Linked DNA regions of Homo sapiens: region 1 is linked to region 2. Evidence: fine-mapped expression QTL. Tissue or cell type: tibial artery. Region 2 holds a variant in brackets; the other region holds the start of a gene. All regions are shown on one strand. Distances are between the middles of the regions.

The links. PIP is the estimated chance that this variant, and not a neighbour inherited with it, causes the effect.
Region 1: it holds the start of PHKA2-AS1, and the variant in region 2 is fine-mapped to the expression of PHKA2-AS1 in tibial artery (GTEx, PIP 0.97).

Annotation. Positions count from the first base shown.
Region 1 is chrX:18,888,743-18,891,242 of GRCh38, reverse strand. PHKA2-AS1 (PHKA2 antisense RNA 1) reads right to left here and starts at 947. Exons shown (of 3, transcript NR_029379.1): 1 at 615-947.
Region 2 is chrX:19,779,675-19,782,174 of GRCh38, reverse strand. All of the region lies in intron 2 of SH3KBP1 (SH3 domain containing kinase binding protein 1), which reads left to right. Among named protein-coding and RNA genes, the nearest start is that of SH3KBP1, 110 kb to the left of the region's middle. The variant C/T (reference allele first, on the strand shown) is at 1,410.

The sequences.
Region 1 (2,500 bases), 890 kb after region 2:
CAGGCTTCTGAGGCCTGGCCCCTTCAGCGCGCAGCTGAGGCCCCCCTCCCCGAGGAGAGGAGCAGATGTTTGAGGGCAGAGGGCCTGTCCTGACAGCACCTGCGTGGAGGTGGCAGGAGGGGATTGTTTCTAGGCCAGGCGAGAGGAGCCTGGCAGCCCCTGGAGCCTCGAGCCGGGGGTGGCGGGGGCAGGAACTTCTACCTCCCTGCTCAGAGCCAAGAAGTCAATTTGAACCTTTGCTGGGGCTCGGTATTAACACGTTCTGCCTTGGAGGGCAAGCCGGTGGGGCCAGGAATAAGCATTCCTTTTAACAACTTCAGTTGAAAAGCAGCCACCGCCCCACCCGCTGCTGTCCCTGGCTCTCATCAGGTGAATTCAGCATTCCTGCCACCCTGCCAGTGCCTCTGTGATCCTGGGCATGAGTTGACCACTATGTACCTCAGTTTACCCATCCACAAAAAATGCAAAAGGCCAGGACTAAGCATGGGGGCGTGACGTGAACTCCCGCTCCTCCTCTGGTCAAGGGCTTCATGCTTAGAGGAAACCAGATAAGCCCTATTGCAACCCCACCTGGAGTGGAGTGGGGGAGGATGAGGAGGAGGGGGAGACCCTACCTTCCACAGGCCCAGGGACTCGAGGGGTGGGGCTCCATTAGGAGATCAGTCGGGGCATGGTGAAGGGGAGGAGAGGTTGTCAAGGCTCAGCTGCCTGGACAGAGAGGATGGAAATACTCCCTGTGTGAAAAAAGAAAAGGAAAAGACCCCAGATCAGGAGGCAGGAAATGCAGTTTGGCAGAGTTGGTTGATGCCACTTACTTCTGGACAAGAAGACTGGAGGCTTGGCCACCCTTGATGGAAATTGCAGCAGAACCATCTCTCTATTCTGTTGATTCCCGCACCAGGCTGGCAAATAGCTTTTGTCTTTTCTGCTTCCTTGTTGCAAAAGGGTACAAAAGCCTCCCACCCACCCCACCCCCAATCGCCCTTTGTGCCATTATCTTTCAAGGTGACTTAGCTTTTGAAGTCCCTGCCATCTGCTCTGCAGGCCTGTACTTTGCAGGATGTGAGAGCACCGCGTTCCCAGAATGCCTTCTGTTCTACCCGACGTGGCTACTGATAGCTCTGCCTGTGAGGGGAAAAGAAAGCTGCGCTGTGGCCCCCTTAAAGCCCAGTCCCTGCTGTCTCCCTCAAAAAGCCACTTAGGAAAGCCACGGCCTTGAGGTACCAAGAGAGTTCTTTGAGAAATGAGAGTGGAAACTGTGAGAGAGGCTGCTCTGCAGTCGAGTGCTGGGCACGTCTGACGATGCCTGGGAGAGGAAAAAATTCCATCAAAAAACTACCATGGTTTTCTTTAGAGGAACATATGTGCACTTTTGGCAAAACATGCCTTCTCAGGAGAGCTGGAATAGTTGGAACCAATGAACTCTGAAGTCATGTGATTCGTCCCTCTGTCTTCGTGCAGTCCTTAAACTATTCTGAAAAATGCATGAATCCAACACGAATCCTAGCATTTCTGCCATGCCCACTGAGGGCCAGGCAGGCATACAGCCTGGTTGGGGGGTGGGAGGGTGAAAAGTATCTCTTTTTGTGCTTGAAGGCCCCTGAGGAAGCCCCTAGGCTCCCGTGGTGAGTGTTCCCTGCGCTGGCCTAGCAGGGTGTTGGTGTCTTGAGCCCGAATCCTGTGCAGCATTGGCCCAACCCTTGCAGGTGGCCGCCACCCCTTTCCCCTGCAGCTGGCATAGCCAAGGTGCCAGGCTCTGCAAAGGGTAAGCTGCATCTGAATTGGGCACGAGGGGATGGTTGTGCCTTCCACATCTCCTTTTGTGAAAGATCTTCCCAGATGCAAACCCAGGATGGACTTGCCAAAGAGAAATCCCAGTAACTGGCTCTAATCTCTGTGCCACCAGCTGCCATTGTCTCGAAGTTCATTTGCAAACAACAGAAACCAACTGTGGCTGGGTTAAGTGGGAAGTTTATTAAACAATATTGGATAGGTCACATGGTCACCAGGCTAAGCGGCTCCCTAGCCAGGACCAAGATCCCATGTCATTCTCCAGTACTCCCAGGTTCATACCCCAGGACTTACACCACAGACACCCCCAATGCTGGGCACTGTCACTGGGACCACTGCCTCTGCTCTTTTGGAAACTAAATGTAGAGGCTTCTACTTGTCACCAAAAGGGATTTTAAACAGCCACTAGCTGCCACTTCAAGGTCTCAGGCAAGCATACTGCCTCGGCTGAGGGAGAGGTTAGAAAAAACAGCATCCAGCCAGGCGTAGTGGCTTGTGCCTGTAATCCTGGCGCTTTGGGAGGCCTAGGCAGGAGGTCTCGAGCCCAGGAGCTAGAGACCAGCCTAGGCAACAATGTGAAACCCTCCCTACAAAAAATAAAATCAGCAAGGCACAGTGGTATACACCTGTTTTCCCAGCTACTCAAGAGGCTGAGGTGGGAGGATCACTTAAGCCTGGGAAGTCAAGGCTGCAGTGAACCGTGATTGCA
Region 2 (2,500 bases):
CTCATATGAGGACAACACTTGTCATTGGATTTAGGGACCCCCAGGATAATCCAGAATGATCTCTTCATCTCAGGATCCTTAACTACATCAGCAAGGACCCTTTCCCCAAATAAGATCCTGATTCTGGGAATTAGAATGTTGACATATCTTTTTAGGGGGTTGCCATTCAATTTACCACAGTAGGAGTAGCAATTCAGGATGGGGCCTTGAAAAGGAAGCAGAAGAAACAGAAGCCTTCATAATGTGATAGTTTAAAAAATCTGCCTGGTCATTTAAAAAAATCCTTCAGAAAGTAACTTTATTGAGGCACATTTTAAATATCATGTAATTCACCCATTTCAAGAATATAGCTCAATGGTTTTTAGTAAACATACCCAGTTATGCAACCATCATCATAAAATGCTTTAGAACATTTTCATCACCCCAATAACATCCACATCCTTCATGCCCATTTATTGTTAATTCCCATTCCCACTCCCAGCTTCACTGCCTGCTGTCTGCTGTCTCTCTAGATCTGCCTTTTCTGGATGTTTCATATGAGTTGTTTTTTTTTTTTTGTGACCGAGTCCCACTCTGTCACCCAGACTAGAGTACAGTGGTACAATCATGGCTCACTGCAGTCTCGACCTCCTGGGCTCAAGTGATCCTCCCACCTCAGCCTTCTGAGCAGCTGGGACCACAGGTGCATGCCACTATGCTTGGCTAATTTGTTGTTGTTGTTGTTTAGACGGGTTTCACTATGTTGCCTAGGCTGGTCTAGAACTCTTGTACTTAAGCGATCCTCCCACCTTGGCCTCCCAAAGTGCTGAGATTGCAGACATGAGCCACCATGCTTGGCCTAAAGTTTTATTTAAAACTTAAGAAAACATTTCTGATTGTAAAATATGGAGAAGGACAATCCCATCACCTGGAGCCTGTTAGAAATGCAGAATCTGCAGTTTAGCAAGATCCCCAAGGCATTCTCTATATTAGACTTAGACATACTGGTACATTGTATCTGCTATATTGATCCCTTGTCCACTTAATATATTATGAGCACTTCCCCAAAAGTATTATATCTCTTCTGAGAACATTTTAAATCTCATTGTAAGAATATACCACAATCTATTTAACTAGCCACTTCATGGCAGACATTGTTTCCCATCTTTTTTTGCCCTTGAAAATAAAGCTGCAATAATTATCTTTGTATAGAAATATTTGTGTATAGTTTTATATCTACTGTATCAGTAATTCCATTTCTAGGAATTGATTATAAGACAATAATTATAGACAGACTGCTAAAATTTAGAAAGTGCATATGTAAATACTGATCAGTGGAGTCAGTCATTTAAAGTGCTGTTTTCCAGCATGGTACTGGTACCAAAACAGAGATATAGATCAATGGAACAGAACAGAGCCCTCAGAAATAA[C/T]GCCGCATGTCTACAACTATCTGATCTTTGACAAACCTGAGAAAAACAAGCAATGGGGAAAGGATTCCCTATTTAATAAATGGTGCTGGGAAAACTGGCTAGCCATATGTGGAAAGCTGAAACCGGATCCCTTCCTTACACCTTATACAAAAATCAATTCAAGATGGATTAAAGACTTAAAACGTTAGACCTAAAACCATAAAAACCCTAGAAGAAAACCTAGGCAATACCATTCAGGACATAGGCATGGGCAAGGACTTCATGTCTAAAACACCAAAAGCAATGGCAACAAAAGCCAAAATTGACAAATGGGATCTAATTAAACTAAAGAGCTTCTGCACAGCAAAAGAAACTACCATCAGAGTGAACAGGCAACCTACAAAATGGGAGAAAATTTTCGCAACCTACTCATCTGACAAAGGGCTAATATCCAGAATCTACAATGAACTCAAACAAATTTACAAGAAAAAAACAAACAACCCCATCAAAAAGTGGGCGAAGGACATGAACAGACACTTCTCAAAAGAAGACATTTATGCAGCCAAAAGACACATGAAAAAATGCTCATCATTACTGGCCATCAGAGAAATGCAAATCAAAACCACAATGAGATACCATCTCACACCAGTTAGAATGGCAATCATTAAAAAGTCAGGAAACAACAGGTGCTGGAGAAGATGTGGAGAAATAGGAACACTTTTACACTGTTGGTGGGACTGTAAACTAGTTCAACTATTGTGGAAGTCAGTGTGGCGATTCCTCAGGGATCTAGAACTGGAAATACCATCCCATTACTGGGTATATACCCAGCCATCCCATTACTGGGTATATACCCAAAGGACTATAAATCATGCTGCTATAAAGACACATGCACACGTATGTTTATTGCGGCATTATTCACAATAGCAAAGACTTGGAACCAACCCAAATGTCCAACAATGATAGACTGGATTAAGAAAATGTGGCACATATACACCATGGAATACTATGCAGCCATAAAAAATGATGAGTTCATGTCCTTTGTAGGGACATGGATGAAATTGGAAATCATCATTCTCAGTCAACTATTGTAAGAACAAAAAACCAAACAC